Regions from separate parts of the Homo sapiens genome. Here region 1 is linked to region 2. The links come from fine-mapping of genetic effects on gene expression. A gene starts in region 2. The other region holds a variant in brackets. All regions are shown on one strand. Distances are from middle to middle. Region 1 overlaps ACTR3 (actin related protein 3). Region 2 holds the start of LINC01191 (long intergenic non-protein coding RNA 1191).

Region 1 (15,611 bases), 35 kb before region 2:
TTTTCTTAACAGCTGCACATCTGAGCAGTACTATCAGCATGTTGATAATTAGAATAGGTAATTTGCAGAATAGAAGTTATCAATATGTAAAAGAATGAGTTTTAGTAAGGACATTAAGAGTGGGTATTCTGGCTGGTATGGTGGCTCATGCCTGTAATCCCAGCACTTTGGGAGGCCAAGGTGGGCAGACTGCTTGAGCCTAGGAGTTCAAGACCAACAGGGCAACATGCTGAAACCCTGTCTCTACAAAAAATGCAAAAATTAATTGAACGTGGTGGTTCATGACTGTAGTCCCAGCTACTCCAGAGGCTGAGGAGGGAAGATAACCTGACCCTGGAGAGGTTGAGGCTGCAGTGAGCCATGATCTCACCACTGCACTCTAGCTTCTCTAGCTTGAGCAACAGAGTGAGACCCTGTCTCCAAAAAAAAAAAAAAAAAAAAAAGGTTGGTGGGGGGGTGCTATTCCTTTTTATTGTTTACTTTTCCCGCCTTCTTTAGAATTAGTAGAGTATTTTTTATTATTCTGTTTTCTCTTTATTGACTTATTAGCTATGCTATATCTGTTGTCATTTGTTTGTTTTTGGTGGTGGTTGTTGTATGGGTTGTAGTAAACATCTTTAACTTACCACTGTCTAATTACAAATAACATTCTACTACTTCATAAATAATAATTATACAACAGCTTTGACCTTCTAGTCTTTGTTCTTATATTGTCATTCATTTTACTTTTATATGTTGTGAACTCAATAATACATTGTTAACTTGTTTCATTTTGAGTGGTGTATTAGTTTGCTAGAACTACCGTAATAAAGTACTACAGACTGGGTACCTAAAGAATAATGTATTTCCTCACAGGTCTGGAGGTTAGAACCAAAAATTGTGATATAACTACAATGTGAGGAGTGGGAAAGGATAGGTATCAGGATTTTGGCAGGGTTGGTTTCTTCTGAAGACTTTCTTCTTGGCTTCTAGATGTCCATCTTCTTTATATGTCTTCACATAGTCCTCCCCATACATGTCTGTGTCTTAATCTCCTCTTCTTAAGGACACCACTTATATTGGATTAGAGAAAGCAACCCTAATGAATTCATTTTAACTAGATACCACTTTGAATACCCTATCTCCAAAAAACAGTCACGTTCTGAGATAGAGCTTAGGACTTCAGCATGGGAATTTGGTGGGGAGGAAAAACACAATTTACCCAGTAGCAAAAAGTTATCTTTAAAAGATAACTTTTTTGGAGACAGAGTCTTGCTCTGTCGCCGAGGCTGGAGTGCAGTGGTGCGATCTCAGCTCGCTTCAACCTCTGCCTCCTGGGTTTAAGCGATTCTTGTGTCTCAGCCTCCCGAGTAGCTGGGATTACAGATGTGCACCACCACACCCAGCTAATTTTTTTGTATTTTTAGTAGAGACGGGGTTTCACCATGTTGCTCAGGCTGGTCTTGAACTCCTGCCCTCAAGTGATCCACCTGCCTTGGCCTCCCAAAGTCCTGGGATTACAGGCATGAGCCACTGTGCCCAGCCTTGAAATTGAGTTCTTTTATTCACGTACCATATCTAGTGCTCTCTATTCCTTTGTGAAGGTCCAGATTTCCACCTAGTATCATTTTCCTTCTGTCAAAATGACATCCTTCAACATTTCTTATAGTGCTGATCTGCTGGCTTTGAATTCTTTCAACTTTTGTACATCCTTTGAAAAAGTCTTTATTCTCCTTTAGTTTTGAAAGATGATTTTTGCTTGGTATAGAAGGTTGACAGTTTTCCCCTGTAGATGTCACTCCACTGTCTTCTGGCTTACCTTGTTTCTGAAAATAAGTCAGCTGTTATTCTTGTGTGTGTTTCTTTGAATGTAATGTTTATTTGGGTGGCTGTCTTCAAGATTTTCTTTTTATTCCTGATTCATTGGTTTTTAGCAATTTGATTGTGATGTACCTAAGTAAAGTTTTCTTTATGTCTCTTCTCCTTGGGGTTCATTGAGCTTCTTGTATATATAGTTTGTAATTTTCATCATATTTGGAAAGTTTTTGTCTGTTACTGATTACATATTTTTTCTCTTCCTCTTTTCTCTCCTTTAGGTACTCTAATCACATGTATATTAGGCTGCTTCACAGTGTCTCAAAGATCATGATGCTCTGTACATTTATTTTTTTATAATCTTTTTCTTTTTTTTGGATAGTTTTTATTGCTCTGTCTTCAAATTCACTATTTTTTCTTCACTGTGTAGTCCACTGTAATCTCATCTAGTGTTTTTCTTTTCATCTGGTAGATTTTTAAATTTTAGATACTGTATTTTTTTCTTCAGAAGTTCCATTTGGGTCTTTTTATATCTTCCATTTCTCTCTTCCTCATCCTCATTGTTGACCTTCTTCATTATATGGAGTATATAGTTGCTGTTTTATTGTCCTTGTCATTCCTCTGTATTGTTTGGTTTTTCTCCTCGTTAAGTGTTGTGTTTTTCCGCTTCCTTGCATGCTTATAATTTTTGATTTGGCACTCTATACATTGTTGTGTATTGTATTTTTGGAGTTCTTTATAAGTATTTAGGATTTTTTCCTGGGACATAGTTAAGATACCAGGAACTAGTTTGATCCTCTCAGGGGCTCCTTTTAAATGTTATTAAGCAGGTCCGTAACAGGTTTTTGTCCAGGGCTGGTTTGTCCCCATTCTTGAGGCAATATTCTTCTGAGGACTCTACTTCATGTCTTGTGTTTGAAAACATCTTTCAACTTTGGCTAGTGGGATCAGGAACTATTTCTGGCTATGTGTGAGCTCTGGTGGTGGTTCTGTCTACTTTTTTCTAGAGGTCCTTTCTCTCACCTTGATGGTTTCCTCACAGGAGTGTGCTGATCAGTATTCAGTTAAGGAGGTACTCTCTTCACATCTTCCCAGCTCCCTGTTGGTTCAACTCCTCCCCCTCCAATAATTTGGCCTACAAACTTCAGCCACTTTGGCCTTTCTGACCTTTAAATTCTATATCCCTAACTTAATGAGACCAGTTTGAGTTCTCTTTCCTATTGTTGTGGCCTAGTAACTCTCCCTAGGCAGTAGGATAGAGTGTAACATTCACGTTATTTGTTTCCCTTTTCTTAGAAAGTATCTCTGCCCTACTCTGCCGATTGTCAAATGTCTGAAAACCTTTCTTTCTTTCTTTTTTTTTTTTGAGACGGAGTTTCGCTCTGTCGCCCAGGCTGGAGTGCAGTGGTGCGATCTCGACTCACTGCAAGCTCCGCCTCCCGGGTTCACGCCATTCTCCTGCCTCAGCCTCCCGTGTAGCTGGGACTACAGGCGCGCGCCACCATGCCCGGCTAATTTTTGTATTTTTAGTAGAGACGGGGTTTCACCGTGTTAGCCAGGATGGTCTCGATCTCCTGACCTCGTGATCCGCCCGTCTCGGCCTCCCAAAGTGCTGGGATTACAGGCGTGAGCCACCGCGCCCGGCCGAAAACCTTTATTTCTTATAAATTGTCCTGTTTTCTCTTTAAATTGAGAGGGTAAGTTCAATCCCTAATATTCTGTCATGCCAGATGAAGGCATCCTTAATATTCTTTCCTAATGAAATTTAATTTTGCCACACTATTTGTTATACTTCTGACACATCAGTAAATTTGTGAATCAGTTCTACAGAATTTAGTTATTTGGCATTATGATGGTGTGTGGAAAGCTTCAGGTTTGTGAAATGGATACATACTTGATTAGGAAAATGATAAGCACTTTGTCACATTTCTTATGAAGCAATCTAAATTTTTTACTGAAATTATAAATGATTTAAAAATAGTACCATCTGATATAAAGTCTGCTATCTAAACCATTTGATATTTATATTTTGAAATTTATTATTTCTATATTGTTGAGTTATTTTAGTCATAGTTATAAACTGTCAGTGGGAAAATAAATCTAAGTTGCTGGCCATTCTTAGTTATAGTTTCTGAGGAATAAAGGTAAGTTCTGAGATAAAGCAGTACTTGAGACTATAAATACACTAACTTAATAAATTGGTCTTTATTGGTTCATATTTTTGGGTTATATTAATTTTCAAAACATTGAAAGTAAATTTGGTATCTTTTTTCCCCTCTCTAGGCTGAAGGGTATGTGATTGGCAGCTGTATTAAACACATTCCAATCGCAGGACGAGATATAACATATTTTATTCAGCAACTGCTGAGAGACCGAGAAGTAGGAATCCCTCCAGAACAATCCTTGGAAACTGCTAAGGCAGTAAAGGTAAAAAGTGTGATAGGAGTGTAATTTAGTTAAAAATTAAAATCACATTTATAACATTAACGTGAGAAATTTTTAATAGAAGAAGAGTACTTGAAATAATCTTGTTAACCAGTTATAAATTATTACCCTTAAATATATTTACATTTTCTTTGTGTTTCTTAAAAGAAAATTATTACAGCAGTTTGTCTTCTGTTTTCTTCATATTTTATATTTGAGAGGAGTAATATAAGAACATTTTACCAAATGACATTAACATAAATTTTTGTGATTATTCTCTTTATTAAAAATAAATAATTATTTCACTATAAAGTCCTTGCATCTCAGTTTCTTCACTGAATTCTTTATTTTAATTCTAAAAGCTTTTGTCATAAAAATTATTTTGATACAATTGATTCATTGTGCTATAGTATAGAAGCAGTGCTTGGCTCAAGTGATAGGGCACATAGAAGAAAAACATGAAGGCTATCTAAAGTATTTTATTAATTTTTTTCTGCCATGTAAGTATTATATCAGTGCTTCATGCAAACTATCAAAATACTTTAGCATCGTCTTTCAAACTTATTATTTGCCACATAACCAAAAAATTTCAGTGGGTTTCACGTGTTTTGAAAAGCAGAACTGCCATGGCAAAAGTAACTTACTTGTCTCTGTTTCCATGGTTTTTTTTTTTTTAATTACCTGTAAATTTTTAAAATTTTTAATTTCTTATTTTTATTGATTTTTTTTTTTTTTTGTAGAGATGGGATCTTGTTCTGCTACCCAAGCTGGAGCGCAGTGGCACACTCGTGGCTCACTGCAGCCTCAAACTCCTGGGCTCACGTGATCCTCCCGCGTCAGCCTCCTGAGTAGCTAGGACTGCAGATGCATATCACCATGTCTGGCTAAGTTTTTGTAGAGATGGAGGTCTTGCTATGTTGCCCAGGCTGGTCTTGAACTCCTGGCCTTAAGCAATCCTCCTGCTTCGGAATCTCAAAGTGCTGGATGTGAGTCACCATGCCTGGGCCTCTTTGCTTGTTTATGGGATTTTCCTTGCTCGTCAGAGCTTAAGAATGAAAATTTATCAACTACTTCCTAGGTAGTAAATTAGTAAATGACTACCAAAAGTTACCCCAAGTTGGTGGCATAAGAATTAAATATATAAAAAGTTAATGTGAATACTACTGATTCAACATCTTTGGGAAATCTGTGAAATTAAAGCAAAACGAGAAAACACCAGAGATTTAAATCTATTCCAGAGAAGATTGATGGTCATTCTGAATGTCTTTAAAGGAATATCATTTCTTTGTCATTCTCACTTCCAAGGTTTGGAGAAGACCTCAAATAGTGTAATCAAATGTCTTCGGATTCCAGTATTTTTTCTCTTTGTGTATTTTGATTATTACTGGTAATATTTGCATCTATCTTGGATGGTGCCTGTGATGTGTAAAAATACTGGAAAAGGAAGTTTTTTTAAAAAAATAAAACAAATATTGGTTGGCAGTTGGGAGTTTATAAATTACAAATATGATGTTATAATCTATAATATATTTTTCAGTGTTTTTGATGAAAACTTTTACTTAGGTCATATAACCAAATATGCAACAAAATAGAGTAATTTATATTTTTAGCCTTTTTTCTTTGCTCTTTTATTTACTCAGACCGTAATCAGTTTTGTTTCAGATAGATATTAAGGATCTATATTAATTTGTGTGGTTATCACAATTATTACTTATTCTTCAGTTCTGTATTTTATTTATTCTCCTTACCTACAGCACAAGATTCATTATTACTGAGACAGAAAATGTTGAATGACATTAGTGAACATTTTCAGGAAATAACATTGAAATAGTAGAAGTCAGCTCTCCAGTCTCTCAAATACTGTTTATATTTAAAGTCAGAAAATATGTGTAGGAGATGAGTATGTTTATTTGTACTACACATATGATAATATCCTAACAAATTTTTCTTCCAGCTTAATTTCCTAATTTTATTTTCTGAAGAGTTTTTTTTTTTTATTGGATTATAGTTTACTGAAAACATGCCATTCTTCTTTACTGTTCCTATAATAAGCAAAAAAAGTTACTTTTGTTTCTTTGTTTTTCAGGAGCGCTATAGTTATGTCTGCCCAGATTTAGTAAAAGAATTTAACAAGTATGATACAGATGGGTCAAAATGGATTAAACAGTATACTGGAATCAATGCTATCTCAAAGAAAGAGTTTTCTATCGATGTTGGTTATGAGAGATTTTTGGGACCTGAAATCTTTTTTCATCCAGAGGTAATTTTTTTTAACGGAATTGTTTAAAAGTATTCAGCAGCAAATATGAATTAATAGATATTCAGAGAGAATTAATCTCAGAAACTTTTATTAGTACACTAAAAGTTTGAGTTTTTATGAAAAGTTTATAAAACATTTTATGAACTTTTTAAAGAAAAAATTTGCTTTTGTTAAAATAAGCAAAATTGTTGCTATTTTTTGCAGATTTAGAAAAAACTTTTTAAAAAATATGTGTGGCTTATGGGGGGGTCATGAAAAGAGGAGAGCCCTTAAATTTTTTTTTTCTTCCCTCCATCATGGACTCAGGTAAAGTTTTGTAATTGAAATAAAATATTTTGGGAAAGGTTCTAGAAAGCTCCCCCCCTCCCTATTTGTGTAAAATGACCATTATACAAAGAACCTTCAATTAACCATTAAAATATATAACTAGTAGCAAAATAGTCTTCTGTCTATGAAGTTTTAGCAACATAAAGGCTTTATTAAATTAAGAAATACATACTTTTAATAATGGAAAATTCTTCTGGTAACTTAGTATCAGAATTGTAACTTTATTAATAGAATTACTAATATTACGTACTTACTCTGCTTATTTAATGTTAAGAATAGTTATTTTTAAAATTTTGTTTATTCACTCAGCAAATGTTAAATGGTTTGAATTTTCATGATCTCAGCTTAAGCACTGGGTATTCAAAGATGAAAAATTATTTTATCTTGCTCTTACTGAGCTCAAAGAATAAAAGAGATGAGTATTTAAACACGTAAGGTTATAGTTGCTTTAATGAGTGTATGTATCTGCTGAGGGCACAGGAACAAAGAGCATGTAAGTCTGCTTGGGAGAACATCTCAGGGGAGATAATGGTTGAACTGAGACTTAAAGGATGAATGGGTGTTTGTCAGTCATGTGTGGTAGGGGAGTATATGTATTTTTGTCAGAAGGTTAGCTAGGCAGAGGTCTTAGACATGAGAGTGCTGGAAAGAAAAGTATAGAGGACAGATTGGTAGGAGAGGGATCCAGATAGGTATTCATGGACCCAGTCTTGAAGGGCAGATATGTTATGCAAGGGAGTTAGCTAGATTCTGTAGTCATGCAAAAATTTTAAGCATAGAAGATAATTGTGTACCATATTAGAAAGGTTACTCTCGCAGCATTGGTTTGGACGGGTTGGAACAGAGGTGTGAATTGTGTTGGAAATAGGTGATTTTACTATAGTATTTTAGATGAAAGATGAATAGTATTTGTGGGTCAGTGAGAATGAGGAAGGAGGTGAGAGAAAAATAGAATCAACATAATCAGTAATTGCTTAGATATGAGGGGAGTAAGAATATGAGGAATCTGTGATAATTCACAGGTTTGTAACTTGGGCAACCCAGTGTGCCATCCACTGAAATTTGTAATACTGAAGGGGAGGAGTAGGTGAAATAGACAAAGATGAGTTTATTATATGCATCTTTTAAAAGGTTCAAAAACAAACACTTGGGTGTTGTAAAGTCATCACCCTTTGTGGGGCACAAAGGAAGAGGTTGGCTGAGAAGGGGCTGTGGAGTAGAAAGGTGAAGAATAGGGCCTTCGTGAACACAGACACGTGGACAGGCTGAGTAAGTAGAGCCTGCAAAGAATACTGAAGATGACAGAGAGGTAGAAGCCAAGCTAAAGGATTATGGTCATAAAATTGAGAGAAGTGAATGTTTCAAGAAGGGAGGGTAAATAGTGCCAGTTGCTGCAGTGAAGTAACATTAGAGGAAACCTTAGAAGTACTTGGAGTTTTTCAGCATCTAGGTTATTGATGATCATAGGGGAGGCGTTTCAATGGAGTGATACGTTAGAGCAGCTTGTTACTTATCTCAGTGAGAGGTGAAGGTTTGGAAATCAGCAGTCTGGACATTCTGAGAGATGGCTATGAAAGAAAAAGACAGTGGACGAGTAAGAATTCAGTTGCAAGAATAAGGCTCAAGATAGTTTTAAATTTTTAAGAGGGCTTACTCCAGTTACAGGAGGGAAGGAATTAAGTATAGGTACAGGAAAATGAACTAGGAAGGGCAGAAGCACAGGTAGGTAGTTGAAGAAGTTCATCATCATAGTTCATAGTTTTAATTTTTTTATGAGGTGGAATCAAGCTTATGTTTTGGGAGAAGGGACTGGACTAAAATTGAGGCCGAAGCGGGCAGATCACGAGGTCAGGAGATCGAGACCATCCTGGCTAATATGGTGAAACCCCGTCTCTACTAAAAAAAAAAAAAAAAAAAAAAAAAAAATTAGCTGGGCGTGGTGGTGGGCGCCTGTAGTCCCAGCTACTCGCGAGGCTGAGGCAGGAGAATGGCGTGAACCCAGGAGGTGGAGCTTGCAGTGAGCCGAGATCACGCCACTGCACTCCAGCCTGGGCGACAGAGCGAGACTTCATTTCAAAAAAAATTGAGGGCTTGTGAAGAATAATGACTTTCATATTTACTGTTGAGGGGAATTGAGAGGGTGACTAGTGAGTACATATTAATAGTATGGGGCATCCATTCTTTACTCAAGGTAGCAGGTTAGATACCCAAAACTTTTAGTTGTGCAATAGTGTCCTCTCGCCTCCCCCAGACAGTTGTGGGAAAGGAGGAAAAGGTTTTGATAAAGCAGAGATTAAAGTATTACAGCATAGAGGAGAGAGCAAGTCCTGAAAGCTGAATTACCTAGGGATAGTGAGGGTACAGGTATTGGAGATCATGATGAAATGACACATAATAATTGTGAATTGGTAGCAGAGGAGTGAGCATGAGAAGGATAAGGAATTGTGGTCAGACTAGTATACTGGAGTGTGAAGGTTTTTGGTGGTACATTTTCTTTGCACTTTATCAAAACATAAAGATTAAGAGGATGTATACACACA[A/G]TTTTAAAGGTCAAATAACACTGACAGACTTAAAATTAGCAGCTCTTCACCCTCCTGCTGCCATTGTGTTCTATAGAGCATCCACTAGCTTTTAGTTATTGCTCTTGGTAGTAACCCCCAGATTTCTAAATACTGTGATGGTATTGCAGGAACATGGATGGAGCTGTTTCTTGATATGTCACTGTTAGTGGTTTAAATGCTAGCCTCCTTTCAGATTAGTTCTTTCTAGACTCTCTTTTCTTCCAGCCTGCCAACATGTTAGGTTATTGTTATTAGGTAAATCAATAGTATTGTAATATTTATAGTATTATACCTGAGACTGTTGTTCACTTTTGAGGCAAGTAGTGTAATGTGATTCTTTTCCCTTAAAATTCAGCTTTTCCTACACTTTCACCTTGTTTATTCATTTGCTTCATTTTCTTTTTTTTTAACTTTAAGTTCAGGGGTACATGTACAGGTTTTTATATAGGTAAACTTTTGTCATGGAGGTTGTACAGATTGTTTTGTCCCCAGGTATTATTAAGTCTAGTATCCGTTAGCTATGTTTCCTGATCCTCTCCCTCTTCCCACTCTCCACCCTCCGATAGGCCCCAGTGTCTGTTGTTTCCCTCCGTATGTACATGTTTACTTATCATTTAGCTTCCACTTAAAAGTGAGAACATGCAGTAATTGGTTTTCTGTTCTTGCACTGGTTTGCTGAGGATAATGGCCCCCAGCTCCATGCATGTTCCTGCAAAGAACATGACCTCATTCTTTTTTATAGCTGCATAGTATTCCATGGTGTATATGTACCACATTTTCTTTATCCAGTCTACCATTGATGGGCATTTAGGTTGATTCCATGTCTTTATTTTTGTGAAGTGCTGCAGTGAACATACATATGCATGTGCCTTTATGATAGAACAATTTATACTCCTTTGGGTATGTGGGATTGCTGGGTTGAATATTTATGTTTTAGGTTCTTGAGGAATTGCCACACTGTTTTCCACAATGGTTGAACTAATTTACACCTAATATACACCAAGAGAGTATAAGCGTTTCTTTTTCTTTCCAGCTTTGCCAGCACCTTTTTTTTTCTTTTTAAATTGTATTTATTTTTTAAAAATATTTTCTCTTTCCTTCATTTTTTAGGAGGGATGGTGTGAGAATATTTTTTGAGTTTTTAATAATAGCCATTCTGACTGGTATGAGATGGTATCTCATTGTGGGTTTGATTTACATTTCTCTAATGATCAGTGACGTTGAGCTTTTTTTCTTAAGATTTTTGGCCACATATATGTCTTCTTTTGAAAATTGTTCATGTCCTTTGCCCACTTTTTAATGGAGTTGTTTTTTCCTTGTATATTTATTTAAGTTCCTTATAGATGCTGGATATTAGACCTTTGTCAGATGTGTAATTTGCAAAGATTTTCTCCCATTCTGTAGGTTGTCTGTTTACTCTGCTGATAGTTTCTTTTGCTGTGCAGAAGCTCTTTAATTAGATCCCATTTGTCATTTTTTGCTTTTGCCATCTTCATCATGGAATCTTTGCCCATACCCGTGTCCAGAATGGTATAATTTGCTTCATTTTGTTTGTACAGTCATTTATTCATTCATTTATTTATTGGGGTTTGAATTAACTTTCTTGTTATACACGGTCTGGAAGGGAACCGAGGAGGGTGGGTCTCATTCTATATAGAGGATTTTAACAGTTTCTTTTCCAAACAGGATTGAAATATTGTATTCATTGTTTTTTTGCCCCCTGATTCATCCTTGGTCATTTACCTTTCCTTTTAATTCTCTTGCTGTCATTTTAGCGGAGAGTCAAGAGACGGGAGAGATAACCACATGTAGCTGGAAGTTAGGACAGATTTTTGTATGGGCCATTTATATGTGAGTAGATTAATAGAAGTGTGTCAGACCTCATTTCATTTAAGGCACATCAATTAACTTGAAATTGAAATCTTAGAGAAGAATATTAAAGCTCCAAGTTGGGGACAGGAATTAGAAAATTGCAGAAGATCCTGAGCAAATGTCCTGCATGAATAGGATCATGACCACACGATGGATAATAGCATGGGATATAGGAGATGAGCATTTGAATGGAATATGCTTGACAAATGAGCTTAGCTGATGCCTTGGCTTTCTTAAAAACCTTGAAGTAGGCTGGTTGTGGTGGCTCACACCTGTAATCCCAGCACTTTGGGAAGCCAAGGTGGGCGAATCACTCAAGCCCAGGAGTTTAAGACCAGCTTGGGCAACATGGGAAGAGCCCGTCTCTACCAAAAAAATACAAAAAATTAGCCAGGCATGTGGCGTGTGCCTGTAGTTCCAGCTACTTGGGAGGCTGAGGTGAGAGTATTGCTTGAGCCCAGGAGGTCCAGGCTGCAACGAGCTGGCATTGCACCATTGTACTCCAGTGTGAGCAACAGAGCAAGACCCTGTCTCATAAATAAATAACCCAAAGCTTTAGATATGTAAATAAAATGTGTTTCATATTGCTTAGGAAAGGTATAGTTGGCTGGATGAAAATGTGTCTTGCTGCTAATGTTTCATATATCATTTTTTCTATTAATTTGAATAACCTTTATTGTTTCATACACCAATTTTTCTTTATTTTTTAACTTTAAAACATTTTCTGTTGTCTATAGCTTTATGTTCCTTATAAGTAATTTCTTCTATGAGAAACCTGTTTCTCTTTTTAAAAAACCTGTTTTGTTTTCTTTTTTTTAAAGGCTGTTTTTAAAAATCAGTTATATATATGCACATGGTTTAAAAGTCTTGGTCTGCGTATCCTAACAAAAACTAGGGGTGCCCTGCATGTTTCTTTCTCTTGTTTTGTATTTCTAGAGGTAACCACTTCAAACTCTTCTTAGTTGCTTCTTTTGCTGATTACCTCCTTAGCTATGAATTGCTTGGTTATATTGCAACTTCAAATTTTTTTTCAGTGTTAGGCTTTTCTTGTTTTCTTTTGGAAACAGGGTCTTGCTCTGTCACCCAGTGCAGTGGCTGAGTCATGGCTCGCTGCAGTCTCCCCAGGCTCAGGTGATCCTCTCACCTCAGACTCCCAAGTAGCTGGGACTACAGGTATGTGCCACCACTTCCAGCTAATTTTTGTATTTTTCGTAGAAACAGGGTTTTGCCATGTTGCCCAGGCTGGTCTTGAACTCCTGGGCTCGAGCAATTCACCCATCTTGCCCTCCCAAAGCGCTGGGATTATAGGAATGAGCCACTGTGCCCAGCCCTGTGTTAGGCGTTGTCTGTCGAATTCCAACTATGGAAGAGGAAGATTGTCTTTTTTATCCTTCTTCTGTCATCACAGACAGGACCTTTCTATTCCCTTTTCATCTCATTTGTTACATTATAATTTCAAGTAGGTTGAAATTCAGTGCTTATGTTTTTGTGACCACAAATTTTGTTCATATCTGAGCCATGTAGTTAACCATGAAATCTTTTCCCTTCCTATAAGTAACTTTGTTTTCCAAGAAGTCATTAATAAACTGTTTGCTTAGTGCTAAAATAATTACCATTCATTCACCTCCAAACTCTCTTCAGTAGTTATATAAATCTCTTCTCAGGATATTCAGATGTATAGGGTTTATTCATCAGTTTAATTTTCTGAAGTGTCTTTTACATCCCAATCTGAACTTGCTTCTGTCGGTTCCCAGTATAGAGTTGCCATATTCCTTTACTATCATTCTAGGGATTCCCTTTCCCTCTCTCTTGTGTTGGATCTCTTTTTCGTATATCCTATGTCTTTTTCACTCCATTTACATGATCTAAATGAAAAGATTTTGTATTAGTATGTGTCACTTTGATAACATTAAATCTCTTTTCATTGTATGCGCAGCCTGTAAATAATTTAGAACTAATCTTAAAAACTGGAAAAAGGCAGGGCGTGGTGGCTCACACCTATAATCCCAGCACTTTGGGAGGCTGAGGCAGGCGGATCACCTGAGGTCAGGAGTTCGAGATCAGCCTGGCCAACATGGTGAAACCCCGTCTCTACTAAAAACACAAAAATTAGCCGGGCGTGGTGGCGGACGCTTGTAATCCCAGCTACTCGGGAGGCTGAGGTAGGAGAATTGCTTGAACCCAGGAGGCAGAGGTTGCAGTGAGCCAAGATTGCGCCACTGCACTCCAGCCTGGGTGTCAGATCGAGACTCGGTCTCAAAAAAAAAAAAAAAAGAAAAAAAAAAAGAAAAAATTGACACATGCCTAATAATTATCAATACAGTTATAGACTCAGTTTAATAAATAAAGGAATAATGTCTCTCAACTAGGACAACCTAATGATAAAAATGAATGGCTGAGGAGATATACAATACTTGTTTGTTTTTCACTAATTAGAGCTAGATTTTGATTATTTATTTAGAGACAGAGTCTCTCTCTGTCACCCAGGCTGGAGTGCAGTGGTGTGATCATAACTCAGTGTAACCTCGAATTCCTAGGGTCAAGCAATCCTTTTTCCTCAGCCCTCTCAAGTAGCTGGAACTACAGGTGTGTGCCACCATGCCTAGCTAGTTTTTAAATTTTTTGTAGAGACAGGGTCTCGCTATGTTGCCCAGGCTGGTGTCAAACTCTGGGTCTCAAGCAATGGTCCTGCCTTGGCCTCCCAAAGCACTGGGATTATAGGTGTGAGTCACCATGCCCAGCTTCAAGTTGTTTTTTGTTTTTGTTTAAGTTAGTTTTTTAAAAAGTATGTTTTTCTTGAGTGCCAGCTGTTTGGAAATAGTAAGTTTATTTTGACTATGGTATATCATCGTTTGAATATATAGCTGATGTTTGTTATTCAAAGTAGATGTGCCAAAAAGTTCTTGAGAGCGCTGAATTAGTGAACACTGAGCTAGCTATTGCTCCTAGGGGAAATACAGTATTAGGTTTCTTTGAGCCTCTGGTAACATTTTTGTTATCCCATTAACATATACCCTTGTTTCATGTGTGTTTCTTTTTAAAGGCACTGCATTTAGTATATCATTTTAGTATATTCATTTATATTCAATAGCACTAGAACACATGTCTGAACAAAGCTATCTAACTTGCTTTTTCTCTGTAAGACACATCACAGCCTCCTTGTGTTTACTAGCCAGCACTTGAGCAGTATGCTTGGGGGCCATTTTAAATAATGAAATCACTAACAAAAATATGAAAACCGTGCCACTAAATAGAACTGTGAAAAGGACACTTGTTTATAGTATGAGAGCTGAAACTAGATAGCAGAGTATCATCTTGTTCAACCTCAATGGGGAATGTGCACATCAGTGGACTCAAATTTTTGTTGCTCTACACGTGCATGTCCATGAATAACCATATTTTGATTTGGGGAGTAACAAATATGTTTTAGCGATTAGGTAAATTCACAAATATGGAATCATGAATAATGAGATTAGACTACATTTATTTATTTCATCCCCTATTGATGGACTTAACGGGTTTTTCCTCTTAGAAACAAGGCTATAGTAAATATGCATATGTAATAGCATACATGTTTGGGGAGTTTCTTCAGAGTTTGTTGTAAGAAGTGGAGTTACTGGTATGTGCATTTAAAATTTTATTAGCTATTTGTATTAGTCCGTTTTCATACTGCTAATAAAGACATACCTGAGACTGGGCAATTTATAAAAGAAAGAGGTTTAATTGGACTTATGGTTCCACGTGGCTGGGGAAGCCTCACAATCATGGCAGAAGGCAAGGAGGAGCAAGTCCTGTCTTACATGATGGCAGCAGGCAAAGAGAGAATGAGGAAGACGCAAAAGCAGAAATCCCTGATAAAACCATCAGACCTTGTGCAACTTATTCACTCCATGAGAACAGTATGGGGGAAACCACCCTCATGATTCAATTCTCTCTCACCAGGTCCCTCCCACAACACGTGGAAATTATGGGAGTACAATTCAAGATGAGATTTGGGTGGGGACACAGAGCCAGACCATGTCACTATGTTACTATTGCCAAATTATTCTCCATAGTGGTTACATCAGTGTATACTCTCACAGCGTTATATGAAAGTTTCCATTTACCCAGATTTTTGCCAGCTCATAGTATATGTATGACTTTACATGTTTGCTATTCTGATAGTTATAAAATGGTATATATCATCATAATTTTGAGTTTTCTCTGATTTCAGTGTCTTCAATCTGAATCTGTTAGAGACCAGTATTAGTGGTTTCTAAAAGGCCTTTTGTTTTTGAACTGAAAACTTTGTTTAACCTTTTATTGTGATATTTGTCAGTAGTGATATGATCTCTATTATATATCCAACTTATTTTTCAGTTTGCTAATCCAGA
Region 2 (15,611 bases):
CCTGCGTTTGTGTCTCATTCCCTAAGTCACACGCATGTGGGGGCTTACTGTGTTTGGCTATTATGAAAAATAGGATTGTAATAAACCCCAGATTTTGAGCAATTTACACTTAAGATTATGTTTGGGTTAGATAAACATTAAAATTTGTTCACTTTCTCTGAACATTGGCCAAATGGTGTGTGGAACCAGTTATGGTCTTGCAGAGTGTGGCTTTCTAATATTTAAAGCATTTAAAATTTATTTCCTTCTATCTGGTGTTAATAATCTTTTTAATATAGTGTCCCTCTCTCTCTCTCCCCTACTGGGGAGTGGTGGCTAATGAGGTTGGAAAGGTAGAGAGAGAGAAGAGGCCCTTGAATGTTAGGTTAAAGGATATAGATTTTTATGTTCCCTAAGGAATATGGAATCATTGAAAGTGTTATCCAGAGAAAGACATCACCCAAGCTATAATTAGGAAATTAATTTGTCGGAAGTGGATGAGAAGAATTGAGAGAAAAATTTGAGGTTTTACTTTTGTACGGGGTATGGCTCTCAGTCACCTGAGTCTGTTTTGCAGGAAATGCCCATTTCCTTATTTTCTTCAGGTTGTGTTTCAAGTTCCATTCTGCTGGGCTTGTAGGAAATTCAGTCTGAATATCATGATTTGGTACTCCTGCTTTCCCAAGCATGTTCTCAAATACGGAAAGATGACTAGGAGTCTGGGAGTCCTGGGAAGGATTCCTAATTTCCATCCCATCATGGTTGCCGTGGACGTCTTTGAAGCTGGGAGGCCTCCTGTGGCTTAGGGCATAGGAGCTTGGTCTCTAGGGACCAGGCTTTCTAGAGACACCACACAGCCATCCCTTCTGAAGTAGTGCTGCCTCTTCGGGTCTGCCATCAGTATGGCTTAGGAGGTTGCTCTCTTCACCCTCTCAGTCTCTGACCTCTTTGCAAACTGCATTCGGTGAAATTTATAGACCTTATTTATAGTTTGATGTGCTCTGATGAATTGAATACTCACATAAGCACACCCCAATCAAGATATAGCATATTCTTGTCACTCTAGAAATTCTCCTGTGCTTCCTTCCAGTCCATCCCCTCCCTACCTGGAAGCAGTCACTCTTCTAAATGTTATCCCCATAGTCTAATTTGCCTGTTCTAGAAATCCATATAAATAGAATCACGCAGGATACACTCTATAGCGTCCTGCTCCTTTTACCCAACATTGTATATGTGAGACTTGCCTGTATTATAGAAATCAATAGTTCATACCATTTTGTTGTTTAGTATTTCTTTTCTGTTGCTGAGTAGTATTCCACTCTTTTATCTTTTAGTCTTTCCCTCTCCTCCTGTTGTCCTCAAAAGCACTAACTGTGCTTTCTTCAATAAAAGCCAGGAAGCCTTCACCTGAAGCCAAGGATGCACAGGGTGCTTATTTTTTCATGGAATAGAGGAGGGAAAAGGCAGCACAAAAAACACAAGTTAGTATCTCAGGCAATTGGTCTGCCACATAATTATTCAGAGAAGAGACTATGAAGGCCTGGATTAGGGTGGAGCATGGGAACAGGGAGGAGAGGGGGCTATGAGAAGGCTAGTGCAGTGGTGGCATTGATGGGATTTAGGACATAATTAGACCTGGGGAAAGGCAGTGGAGGAAGGCCAATGCTGAGTTGTTTAGCCTGGGAGGTGACTGAGGTGACTGGTGTAGAGGTGAGGATGGATGTTGGTACAATATCTAGAATAAGAGGAGCCTATTTAGGAGGGAAAATGGTAAGTGCAGTTTGGTACCTGTTGATTTTGAGGGGTATATTGGAGATAATATCCATTATCTAGAAACAGATCGCTAGCAGAACTGAAAGTGAAGATAAAGAGTAATACATGAAGAGGTGAATGCTGAAACCTTGAGAAAAGAAAGGTAAAGGAGGGAAATAAGCCAAGAACAGGGCTTCGGGGAATGGCATGCAGGGGACCCAAGGAGGAAGAAGAGCCAAAAAAGGAAGGAGGGGGTGGCCACAGTATTATGAGTGGGAGCAGGGTGTCCTGGGAACGAGGAGAGCAAAGGACATGAAAGAAATAGCTGGCAGAAATGCCAAAGCCTACAGAGAGATGACAAAGATAAAGACTGAATAAAAGGTCATTACATTTCCCAGTTGGAAGATCACTGGTGGCCTTTGAGGGATCAACTTAAGAAGGGAAATGGGAATTGAAGAGGATTGCAAGGAGACCTGGAGTAAGGGAGAATAATGAGACAGCTCCAATCATTGGAAACAGCTCTTGTTATTTTTTTTTTTTTCAAGAAATATGCACTTAAAGAAGGAAAAAAGCTCAATGGTTGCGTGAGGGCTGGAGGATAGGTTGGAAGCGGGTTGCTTGGGTTAGTTCTCCTGGAAGCCTCGAGCATACCTGTGCGCTGAGGCTAAGGAGGCAGAAGTGAGAAGGGGCGGGTTTTGACTCAAGCTCCCAGAAGAGGCAACAGATGGTGGGATGGAAAGTGAGAGAAAAGTGGATTAATTCTGGAAAAGAGTGAGGGGTCAGTCCTCTTCTTGGAAAGCAGTGGAGGAGAGGATGGGTGATACATTCCAGGATGAGGAGGGAGCAGTCCCAGCTCTGGTTGTTTTCCAGCATGACCACAACCCCTCAAGAGATTTTTTTGCTGTATTTACTCTGAATACATGCGATTTATAAAATGTGCCCTTTAAGGACCAGGAGGCAGGATTTTGAAGCAGCACCTATAAAGGAGGCCTTTTCCAACAGCTCCAGGCAAGACAGTAGAGATGATCCCCCAAAAGTCAATCGGTAATCACTCTATCGTGTTCGTAGCAAATGGCAGCAAGTCCTAGGTTAGGAACCGTACTATGAAGTGTTAATAAGAGACACTGGGCACATGTCCTCTGATCAGATTAATCAGAGGCCAAACTACACGGCATTAACAACAGACATTAGCATTGGCTGGGTAGGTTGGCAAGGCGAAAGTGGGAAATACCAGACCTTGGATTCAGAAGCACTTGTCTGCACTCATTTTCAGAATTATATCTGCAGCACAAAAGGGACTCCCAGCATGTTGAATTGGCTTCACAATTAACATGATGCTTGGAAGCACACGGTTTGCTCAGGCTTGAGTTGTTCTGTGCTGCTTGAATGCACATCCGTTGGTGGCACACACAGGGGAGCAGTGATGCTGTGGTGTTTTCTACCTGACCTCCACAGGCCTGGCTATGTCCTGGAGGGCTCTGCTTGCTAGAAATTTGGCTACTCTGTAAAGGAATGTTACAGTTCTTGGAAATTCTAGTGAGTGTTCTCAGTATGCCCAGTGTGACAGGCCCAAATATACATCTATTAAACATACAGGAATGTATTTGTTGACCTTCTAGGGAGAAGGCACGTGTCCAAAGCTGCCCCACTTGCTCACATTGTGGTGGCTTCTGTATTCTGTATTACAGATTTTATCACTGATACCTCTAGAAAAAAGTGTCACTTCCCACCTCCCTTTCCCATTCCTGTGGATCTTGAGAATTTTTGTCAGTTTCTTCTCTTATCATGGTCTAACCCCAAACAACTTACAGTGGGTGCCACAGGTGTTAATATACAAAAGAATAAACAATATAGCTAGGATGATCTCTTCTTTCTGGAAGATTACTGTACACAAAGACACTACTTTTTCTAAACATTTAGAAATGAATTCCTAGAATTCTGTCATTGCAAACTGAGTGGGAACAATTCAGAAACTGAAGGCTGCAAGGGTTTGTCTCCTTCCAACTTCAGCCTTCCTTTCCCTCTCCCACAATGACCCTGGCCTTTTTGTGTGTATAAATTACCTCTGTCTGGGGTTGGATGGGGCACTGCGCTAAGCCTCTGGGAGAGGATGTGCTCTAGGCCTCCAGGAACTCATACGCTGTGACAGATGGTGGCAAATTAAACTGGCAGTTGAAAAAGCCAGAGTGTTTCCAGGGCTTCTGCTAGAGGAGTGGTTCCAGAGGGGTAGAGTCAGGCAAGATGAATAGCTGGAAAGTGGCCAAAAGCATTCCGTGAAAACCTATGTAGAAGAAGCTATTCCGGACCCTGTGTGTGCACACAAAGATAAAAGAGACCTATTTCTGTCCTATAATCTAGTAAGATTGACAACACACTGAAGGGAGCAGGGACAATGCTAGGCTGAATAGGAGTAGGAACAAAGGTTTATATGAGAGTGAGCCCAAAATTATAGCTGTAGTGTGGAAATGTGTGTGGATGGGTGAGCCTTGAATGACATGGTAAGAATGAGAGAAACTGAATGCTGCGGCTGGCCGGGACCCTAGGGATGACCTAGGCAATCCCCTCAATTTAAGCATGAGGAAACTGAGATCCCTCCCCAGCAAGGTGAAGTGACTTGTCCAAGGTCAGGGTCACTTAGGTACTTGATACTCAGTGATTAATAGCACAAATAATATCACCAGCGGCTAAGATGATCAAGCACCTATTGTACTCACTAGATTAATCACATCCTCACAGTAGGTTATTTTCGCTTGACAGATGAAGAAACTGAGACAGAAGAGGGTAAGTACCTTGCCCAAAGTCATGGAGCTGGTAATTGTTGGAAATCATGAGACTCGCACAGCAGTTGGGCTCCAGGGCCTATGCTCCTAACCTCTGAGCTACATGGCCCCTTGAGCCTCTAATTCCTGGGCCAGTGCTGCTTGTCCTTGAACCGGGCCTGGAAGGGGTTGGGGAGACACTGTACTCTCCTAAACAAGGGAGTGACCTGATGCAGGTGGCATTTAGTGATGCTTCATATGGCTTCAGTGGTCAAGGTGGACTAGAGAAGAAATGGAGAAGGGAGACCAGGTAGGACATGATCTAAATCCAGTTGTGATGCACATCTGGACTGCAGCAGGAATGGAAGATGGCACTGGACTGGAATGATTAGTTAGCAGTCATTTATTCTACAGTGTGAATTAGCCTGTCCTGTTGCTTATCCTGTGGGAAAAGAAAAACAACTGAAGGAAGGAATGGAGAGAGGGGAGAAAATAAAAAAGAGGGGAGGAATAGTATGTAAAGGGAAGGGCAAAGGAGCAAAAGTAGAAATGGAACAAAATTGATGATGACTTCACAATATTCCTCACCTAGTCCCTGGCCTTTTGGGTATAGTTTAATTTAAACCATCTATTTCTGTCAATTTCTCATTGAAGGAAGAGAACAAGAACAATGCCATCTCCTAGACAGCACGAGACCTTAACAAGGTAGTAGAAATCTCATGAGGAACCCAGCTGGTGTTCACAGATCAGGAACTCCCACAGGGAAGGACTTGCCACCCCACTGCTAGGACCCCATCAGAAGACGGCCCCATCAGCATGCAGCAGACACTGATGGGACCCCATTAGCAGACAGCAGACAGCTAGCTCTATGCTATAGAGACCCTCCTCATCCAAGGTCGCAGCCTTCGTGGGGCAACCCACATCCAGTGACTGACTGACACAGAAGGACAAAGCCAGGCCATTTTAGCCCAACATGGGCAAGCCTGACAGGCCATTAAAACTCCAAAGCTCCCTGTAGGGTGGGCCAAGACTCCTGCTGTGCCCTCTCACAGCTCAACTCCTCCCTCTACCCACTCCTGCCTCATCTCCCTTCCTTCCACAGGTATGGATCGGAGAACACTCCTTAATAAATCTCCTGCCCACTGAACTCTGCTCAGAGTCGGCTTCTGGGGAGCCCAGGCAGCATCATGGAGATTCTCTCTGGCTGCCTCATCTCTCCCCACCAAAACTCCAACTTCCTTTTGGTTAGGGAGTGCCTCCTTCCTCCTGCACCATGCACTTCCTCCACAAACCGTTTACATCATGGGGGATGATCTTTCCTGTGGAGACAGCCTCTGCTCTTCAGCTGAGGCAGAGGCTTAGTGGCCTCCCTTGCTGAAACCTTCAAACAGGCTTGGGGCAGGTTGGTTTATCTCCCCGTTGACAGCAGGTGTATACGGAACATGGAATCCCTTAACATTTTTTTGATTAGAAGCATGTTTTTTTTTTTTTTTTTAATTTCTGTGAGACCCCCTGGGTCAGGCTTCAGGATCTGCTGATAGACCTTCATCAGCAGGGGTGTGTGTGTTTCTGTGTGTGTGTGTGTCTAAATGTAAGTAACCACCAGAGCCTGCTTCAGTAATCAAGGGGAATTCATTGTTATAACAGAATAACCCATGAAGTTCAAGGGCCAGAATGCAGCCCAGGGATGTGGACTGCCTCAGGGCATAGGCAGAAGGGCCTCTCCAGCTGTCTCTGCTCTGGGCTGGTACTCACTCTGCAGGCCAGGCAGGGCTGCTGCTTTGTGCACATGGCAGCAGCAGCATGCCCCTAAGCGCTGGGGTCCACCCCACCGCAGATCCAGCTGCACTTGTTCGTGGTTTCTGAATACTGGTTCCAGATCTCAAGAGAGTGAGAATCTGACTGCCCAGCTTGAGCAAGTGGTCAACCCTGCTCACCCTGCTGTTTGGGGGCTAGTCCCACAAACATGGCAGACACCCCCGACCTCCTATAGGGGGTGCAGAGTCTCAGAGAGAGGGGCTGTGGTGAACAAAGGGGACAACCCTCCACAAAGGGCCCATGACACTGTGCGAACATGCCCACAGAGGGGTGGGTGCACCAATTAGAAAATGTTCGCATGAGATATGACTAGATTTCCCAAGAGACAACTCTCATAGATCAATGTGCCTGTCACGGAGGAGCAAGGAGTACGCTTGGAGAGGAAGAGGCAATGGGTAGCTATTTAAATTCATTGTAAACTGAGAAAACTGTAAACAGGGATGACGCTGCTTATGACATAGTCACATACACAGTGTCACATAGTTAAGGGGATCAGCCACATTGAGTGTGGATCTCTCCTCCTCTCGGAGCAACGTTCCTATTGACATTCGGAGAGGCACGCTGCCCCCAGATGCTCATTTTCAAACACAGGACGTGAGCAGTTTCACAAATATCCACCAGATGGTACCTTCCTACCAGAAATTAGGTTTCAGGTTGTGAAAATCCAAATTGTTTTTCCATTCCACGGACAAGCTATAGAATTAGATGCCTATCCTGGCTACGGTCAGAGGAAAGAAAATGGGTGAGAACCAATTCCAGGGAACGACCCACGGAGTTTTTATTCTCAAGAATACCAAACAGAACTTGCAGGGTCCTTTGTGTGGTGGAGGGAGGCAGCTGCTGTGGATGAGTCATGGAAAGGCCATGTGCAAGGGAAAGACCTTGAGGTTATCTCCGGAGAGGGGTTGGTTGTAAACATCCTCAATGGCACCTTTGTTTTATCCCACTAGTTGCCAAATACCTGTGATTCTGCACAGCGCTCCTGGAATGCTCAGAAATTATGACTGGTTACTCTGTCAAAGAAAGTCTTTGTTGTAGAAACTTCCTCATTTGTTCAGGCCTTTGGGTTCTAAGCCCTGAGCCATAGTCTCCCCCGGTTGTTTGCCTGTGTGGGCTAGGGAGGGTGACTGATGTTCACCGTGGGGTGACCACCTTGTCCTGGTTTGGCAGCTGCCTTCCTGCCTTTAGCAGTGACAGTAAAGCAAACCCAGGCGGTTGGTCATCTCGGTGCACTGAGCTGTACACACCAGGGACAGTGCTGGATCCTCACGCAGGTTCAATGAGCTGGGCGATTTGAGGTGGTAGATGCCGTCTTCACATGATTAATCATTTTGTTCTTGGCATTTTCCTAGTAGGTCTCCCTGCTTCCTTTTGCCAGAAAAGGTAAAGTTCTGGAGAAAGAGGTTTTTTCTTGGCTTTTGAGTTCAGGCCTTACAGAGGTAAAACCGAGTAGATGTGGGAGAACATGTGGTAAACAGATACAACTTTCCCGGGATGGGGAGAGAAAAATAGTGAAACTCCATCTCCACTAAAAATACAAAAACTAGCCCGGCGTGGTGGCACGCGCCTGTAATCCCAACTACTTGGGAGGCTGCGGCAGGTGAATCACTTGAAGCCGGGAGGTGAAGGCCGCAGTAACGCTGTTCCCTGCATTGGATGAAGTGCTCCCCACCAAACTCTCTCACCGGAGAGGGTGGGATCTGCGGGCTCCCTGGGTGGCTTGATTTCGACACCCTGTGGGCTGCCTTCCACTCTGGTACTTTCCTCTGCCTGCTGATGCTTGAAATTCCTTGAACCGGCCACACACACCTGCTTTCTGGAATCAGAACACTGGAAAGGCTTCCTGGGACGGGAGAAGAGTGATTTACATTCCTGCCGAGGTGTAAAGCTGCGGATGGCAGGTTCTCTCCTGAGAACCGGCTTCAACTAGGAGGAGGAGGTTGGAAGCAGGACCCCGAGCTGACCTGTTGACCAGGAGAGGAGTAAGCAGAAGGGAGGCAGGAGCGGGCGGAGGAGAGAAGGCCGGGGAGCCGGGATGGGGGTCACCGCCCCCGGGGAGCCGGGATGGGGGTCACCGCCCCCGGGGAGCCCGGATGGGGGTCACCGCCCCCGCCCCCGTGATGCCGAGCTGAAAAAGACAGTCTCCAGGTAGGATAATCCGTCACACTAGATGCATATAGCTTCATGCAAGAAGAGCGACTGTTGCGCTGTCTTCTACCCCCTTTGGCCGCGATCCCGTGACAATGCCGGCATCCGGGCACCAACTGGCTTTTGCGAACCGCTCTCCGCTCCCCGCCCGGATTCCGAAGCCCGGAGCCGTTTACAGTTTGAGGCGCCGTGTGCCGCCCCCTGGTGGCCGGAGGCCGTTACTGTCGCGGCTGAGGGGGCGTCCCGGTGTATCCGCAGCGCGCCCTGGCCGCCCTCTGGTGGCCGGAGGCCGTTACTGTCGCGGCTGAGGGGGCGTCCCGGTGTATCCGCAGCGCGCCCTGGCCGCCCCCTGGTGGCCGGAGGCCGTTACTGTCGCGGCTGAGGGGGCGTCCCGGTGTATCCGCAGCGCGCCCTGGCCGACCCCTGGTGGCCGGAGGCCGTTACTGTCGCGGCTGAAGGGGCGTGTCCCGGTGTATCCGCAGCGCGCCCTGGCTGCCCCCTGGTGGCCGGAGGCCGTTACTGTCGCGGCTGAGGGGGCGTCCCGGTGTATCCGCAGCGCGCCCTGTCCCGCCATATACATTCCGTGCTTTTCAAACACCCGCCGTGGGCTAAGCATGGGACCCACGTGGGGCGGGGACACACGGCGATAAAGAGCCAGGCCCTCGCTGCCAAGGAGCTTTCCCGTAACACCGATGCATCAAACAAAAGGTAGTAAAAGTGCCTGGGTTTTTGCGTTGAAATATCTTTCCCTTCAACTCCCCACAAGGTGCTTTTACTCCCCGTCATCACCACCGCCTGCCAGAGGCAGTAAACTTGGGTCCAGCGGGCCCCTGTCAAGCTGCATAACCACACAGTGAGAGGCTGTCTAGAGAAAGGCGTTTGTTCAGGAGCAGAGCGTTGCAACGGTAACACGCATGTCATAGTAAACTGTGCATATTCGAGGAGGCAGAGGAAGAAAGGAAGAGGAAGGTTTTCAAAGAGAAAGTAAGGAGGATTTCATAATTGTTTTCAAATGGTTATCCTTGGCTACAGAGATCAATAACAAGGGGTTGCCAGTCCAAGGTTAGACAGGCAGTTGCTGGGCGAATGTCCTTGTGGAGGTTTTTTTTTGTTTTTTTTTTTTTATATATATGTGTAAGGCTGTGATGGCCTTTGTGCAAGGTTATGGTTTTGTAGAGCCTTTTGTGTTAGTTTTTGTTATCAGGCATACAAGTGTGGGAGTGCTTTCTTCTTAGCTTTCCCTAGCTCTATTTGTCAAGTTTTTTTTGGTTTGTTTTTTGTTTTTTTTTCCCAAGATGGCGTCTTGCTCTGTCACCCAGACTGGAGTGCAGTGGCACGATCTCGGCTCACTGCAACCTCCACCTCCTGGGTTCAAGCGATTCTCCCGCCTCAGCCTCCTGAGTAGCTGGGAGGTGCCCGCCACCACGCCCAGCTAATTTTTGTATTTTTAGTAGAGACGGGGTTTCACCATGTTGGCCAGGCTGGTCTCGAACTCCTGACCTCAGGTGATCCGCCTGCCTCAGTCTCCCAAAGTGCTGGGATTACAGGCGTGGGCCACTGCGCACAGCCTGAGTTTTTTTTTTTTTAAAGAAAAAACATTAGTAACTCCATTTTGATTCTTACAACTTCCACACCACCTAGCACTTTATCTCCAACCCTCGGGGACAGCTGGTCTTGTAGACTCTGGCAATTCTAGACAATAACCTCACAGACAAACCATGATTACTCATTTCCCTGGGGCATGGCTGCTCTCAGCCCTTCTACATCCCCAGTCCTACTTATTTGCTTATCTCCTGGCCAGGCAAACCTCCTTTCCCCATGAAGTCCTTCCATGCCTGCTCCAAACCCACATGGCCTCTTTATTCTCAGGACTTCTCTCTACCATTATTTTTTTCGTTTTTTTTTTTTTTTTTTTTTTTTTTTAATTTTTATTTTCCAAGTAGACGTGAAGTTCCCCGATGGCTGAGGCTGTGTTACACCAATTTTCTACCCATCCTTCCTTCTTAAATTATGTCCCAGAGCTCCCAAGTTTCTCTTTTATTATGTACAGAAACTGCCTTCTTCCTTTCAAATATTGGGGCTACACTTAGGCCTCATCAACATATTCCCTCACCAGAGATGGGAAGTAGTTAAGTCAGGATAGGCTAAGTTATTGGCAGTAACAATCCTCAATCTCTGTGGGTTAAAATAACAAGGTTTATTTCTTCCTGATGTTTCACAACTACCGTGAATCACTTAAGGATAGGGTTGCCAGATTTAGCAAAGAAAAATACAAGACATTCAAATTTGAATTTCAGATAATCGGCGAATTTTTTAGTATAGGTATGTCTCAAATGTTGCATACTAAAAATTATTATTTTTTCCTAAAATTCGGGTGTAACTGGCCATCCTGTATTTGAGCTGACAATCTTGCTGAGGGGTCTGCTCCGTCTCCTCACTCAGGACTCAGGCTAACGGTGCCTCCACTCGTCAATAGCCCAGAAGAGAGAAAGGGGATGTGGTAATTTGCACACTGGCTCTTGGAGTGTTTTTGGATGGAGTAATCTACAACACTTCCAATCGCATGTCTTTGGTCAAGGCTAGCCAGGAGGCCATTCCTAACCTGGAAGGGGTGGGGAAATGAAGTCCTACCCTGTGCTCAGAAGAAGTGAGCACTAGGTTATTGGTAAACAGCCCAAATCACTACCATGGTTAGAGGTATTTCCATAACTGCTGTTAGGAAAAACTGATTTCTCCATCTTATTAAAAGAAATTAGAGGTGAGGGTGGGGGTGAAGGCAAAAGAAAAAAACCAGAAATTTGTATTAAGCATAATCTTTTTCCTTGTAATTTCTATCTAGTGGTTAACCATTGCTTTCTAGTGAGCAGAAAATAGCTTTCCATACCCACTTAAATATGTGAAAATAAGTAAATGTTGCATTCCCTTATCTTTTCTTCTCAGGATTAGGTGCCTCCCCATTTTTTTTTTTTTACCACACTTTCCTCATACGATGTAGTTTCCAGAACTTTATTTACCATTGATAATATATACTAACTGAATTGTAGCAGGCTGTATTCACTAAGTGAGCCAAACCGCGCCCAGCCTCATTTTATTATTATTTTGTGGTTCTAGATACAGACTAGACTCAAACATAGAAGAAAGCAATTTATTTTGAGATGGTGGCAAGTCAGGGGAGCCTCTAAGTCCTACTTGTTGGAGTTTTTTGGTTGCCCTGTGACCTCTCGCCTTTGGCTTCCTCATTAGATATTAAAGACATTGGCGGTAACACTGGAATGGATGTGAAGATGGGAGAGGTCTACCCATAGCCCATTCTACAGAGCAGAACTGAGGCTCAGATATTGAGGTAGATTAAAGATGGCTGCCAGTTCAGTGCCACTTGTCCCGTTGAACTGTGAAGTCTTATCCCCCTCCTTGGGTCTGCACCAGCCTTGATGACTTGCTCACTACAATGTGGTAGAAGTGATGGTGCATGACTTCCAAGGTTAGATCAGAAGAAGCCTTGAAGTTCCTGCCTTGGTCTCTTGAAACAACTTACCGTGTAAGAAGTCTGACACCCTGAGACCGCCATGTTGGCACAGTTATGGGTGGATGCTCCAGTAGATGGATCCAGCTGAGCCCAGCCCTCCAGCCATTCCCACCCCCAAACCATGGGTGAAACTGTCTTGGACCCTCCAGTCCAGCCCACTCAACATCTAAATACCACAGACTGACCTCAGCTGATACCATCACCCAGTTAAAATGTGCCTGAAACTGACCCACAAAATCATGAGATAAACTAAAATGGTTGTTGTCCTAAGCCACTAAGATAATAGAGCAGATATATATGCACTTAACACTCTCTCCCGGGGGTCTGCTTTTCCTTTCCCCATTTTGTGTTGCACGCCTGGTTGTTCTCACAGATTTCATGAGTGGGGAGGTGTGATGAGCCTGGGATATTCATCTTCAACAGAAACAATCCAGATAAACTCTTCATTCAAACAGGGTTTGGGCTGCACTGCAATTTTGTTGTCAAATTGGATTTGGAGGTGCTCAGGTTTAGCAAGCACTTCCATGGGAAAGAGAACTCTGTTGGATGGTAATGTAAGAGGACTCTGTCTACAGAAATAAGGTGAGACAGCTCAGTGCAGTTTAACAATTGTGCCATGTGCTTAACTAATCTCTTTCTTACAGTTACTCTTTGAAGTGAGTATTGTTTCCATTATACAGACAAGTAAATTGAGGCCAGGCAGCACAAGCAGTAAGTGCCAGATGGGATTTCAAACCAGGCTTGTTTACCAGATAGGCTACCATGAGGTTAATGCCCAAGAGACAGACCTAAACATTCATTTTATAAATGAGAAGACTGAAGACCAGAGAGATTAAGTAGTTTTGCTGCTGTGCTCTATAACTAACCACGCCTTTTCTGGCCAGTAGACTCCAGCCTGATCCTCAAGGCTCTCTGGAGTGTAGGCCAAAGCCATGCTGAGTGAGTGTCTTCGGGAGTGCTATTTTACGAGGGAAATAGAAGAGATGATATCTGTACTTCCATTTCTAGTATGTTCCCAGAGAAAGCAAGTCCCTGATCACCTTCTGTTTCATTCGTGGCAGAAGGCTGGGGACTGTGATTTGGTGGATGAACAGTTAGTACCTCCAAAATGCTGGATTGCTGTCATGTGCTTTTCTCTGGAGAGAGCATCCTCTCAAGAAAACATCCATCCCTGTGATCTGGCAGAGGTCACAAAGATAGTTCCATCTTTGCTCCACAGCACGGAAAACGGGAGATATAGTAAATCAGTGGAGCTATTCTGGGATCACAGGCTACTCAAAAGACCATTCCTGGCTTCTCTTGCATCTCTCAGGCTGCCTGGGCGCGGGACCCAAGTCAGCATCCATCAGCAGCAGGGGGAGTGGTGCAGAGGCTGGTGCGGAACGTTACGTATTTACAAATAGAACAAGGACCCGGTGTGACTTGGATAAAGAGAAGTCCAAATAGGGTCAGAAATTCTAAGTTGAAATCACTCTGGAGATTAAGTATTTATGAAGCACTTTGTACCCACAAAATGAATTTGAATCATTTATCATCCAAACTCACAGTGTCATAGTAACATATAAGTATCTGGGTTATGGCTAAGGACCCAAACTTGAACTACTACCTGTATAAAAAGGGGACATTTTTATGCACGTGGGTCCTGTTTTTAATGCTATTGTGGAGCAAAATCAAGAATTTTAAAAATAAATACCTGAGTCTTGATCCAGACCCATCATGACTGTGGAAACCTGTAATTCTCTCCTGTGACACTTCTGAAATGGTGGCTCTCCTGTCGCAGGCAGCAGTGAAAGGCGGATTCTTTCCGATGAATCTCTAATAACCCTCCCTTCTTTGTCTCACAACGTGGTGATTTGCCTTGTGTAGCTCTTTATGTTCTGAGATGAGCAGATGACAGATTGGGATGCTGGAGATTTTGAATGTGCACACGGCTGAGAAGACCACGCCAGTTGGCTTACATGCCGAATTCAAGGTGAAAACTGCTTTGGGTTGTGGTAGTTGAAGCTGTTTGCAAAATCAGGAGCTGACTGTGGCTCTGCTGGTTATCCAGAAGCCTCCAGGAAGTCATAGTACATCTCATTTCTCCTCTGACTGTTCAAATGACCTCTTTCACAAAAATACTTCTCTACTTAATCTACCCTCTCTCCAATTGTCTAAAACCCCACTTTACTTCTTAGAATTATTGACCATAGGATCTAAAAGGAATTGTATAGATTATTTCATCCAACCTTCTTATTTCATTAATGAGGAAACTGAGAGTCTAAAATGTTAAAATAAGACTAGAATACAAGTATTTCAAGTCTTCTTTCAATCTTGTAATGTTTGATTTTGTTAAACATGTATCCCATAGCTACATTGAATGCTTTTTACTTTGGATTCTTCTCCATTCCCTAGTATGCCTTACTCAGGGCTCATTCATAGCACAGAAATGTCTGATCAGCAGTTGACTGGTAGTGGCTGCCTGGAGTGCTCTGCTTAGGAGGAGCCAGCGGAATAGATCTCACGGTTTCTCTCCAGATGTGACCTCTACTGAGATAACTTTGATCACCCTAGCTAAAAAGTGTCGTCTCTCCCCGATTCCCTTAGGCACACATTATCCCCTTTCCTTACCTAATTGTACTCCTATCACCTCTCATTAACTAAAATTATTTTTCTTGTGTATTGCCTTATTTCCCCACGAGAATGTAAGTTCCAAGAGGGCAGGGACTTTGTTTGTCTCAACCACTGCAGGGTCTGCTGTGCTTATGAGAGTGCTGACATGTAGGAGTCACTCAATAAATAACTGTGGAATAGATGGCCAAATGCTGCCATTGATTAGTGATGTCTGCCGTGGGCAATGGAGAGACAAATTACTGGGGTCAACGCAAAGCTTTTGTCACCGGTGGTTATTGGCCAACCAACCAATCCCAGATGCAAGACTGGTTTCCTTTTGACATTCAATTTAATTCTGGGCCATTGTGGGATAACCAGTTATTAGATACTCTGGAAGGAAGAATTCCCTGAATCACTAGTTAGGCAACTTAAAAGAAGAAAGGCACATTTTCTGCTATCTCTTCTCCTCATTGTCTTATTCATCATGACACTTCTACAACGTTGCAGAATTCTTAGCACATAGTAGGCGCACAATAAATATTTATTCACTGATAATTTGTGCTTTCTCAATGTCATTTTAAGAGGATTTTGTAAAACTTTCCTGCTAATCTGAAAGAGCTGCACCACAGAACACAGTATATAGCTCAAAGTACACAGTACGTATTGGTGTGCCTGATTGAGACTCAGGTGTACAAAGCCATGAGCAAAGTTCAGGTAAATATCCAAATTAAACTGTTCTAAAGTAGGTTGAGCAGCATCCTTTACCTTAGCCCTGAATATTGGCTGTTCTTAAAGTAGGTTGAGCAGCTTCCATTACCTTAGCCCTGAATATTGGCTGTTCTTATCCATCTTCTCCTTGAAGTCAATATTTGAAATAGGCTTTTGTGAGGCAGGAGAGGCTTAAGAAAAGTAAAAAAACCAAAGAGGGATTTAGTGCTTAAATATATTTATGAATTCATCTCAATTTCTCTTTATCTCTTTTTAAAGAGCTGTGGTATATGTGAAAACGTTTGTAGCAGGTAGAGGTTTTTGAAAAT

Evidence for each region. PIP is the estimated chance that this variant, and not a neighbour inherited with it, causes the effect.
Region 1: its variant is fine-mapped to the expression of LINC01191 in whole blood (INTERVAL, PIP 0.92).

Annotation. Positions count from the first base shown.
Region 1 is chr2:113,935,882-113,951,492 of GRCh38, forward strand. ACTR3 (actin related protein 3) reads left to right here. Exons shown (of 12, transcript NM_005721.5): 7 at 4,078-4,221; 8 at 6,305-6,478; 9 at 15,598-15,611. Among named protein-coding and RNA genes, the nearest start is that of LINC01191, 36 kb to the right of the region's middle. The variant A/G (reference allele first, on the strand shown) is at 9,346.
Region 2 is chr2:113,970,965-113,986,575 of GRCh38, forward strand. LINC01191 (long intergenic non-protein coding RNA 1191) reads left to right here and starts at 8,605. Exons shown (of 2, transcript NR_148509.1): 1 at 8,605-9,164. LINC02992 (long intergenic non-protein coding RNA 2992) reads right to left here and starts at 9,020. Exons shown (of 1, transcript NR_034130.1): 1 at 6,705-9,020. RefSeq lists an enhancer at 8,473-8,622 and a silencer at 8,713-8,902.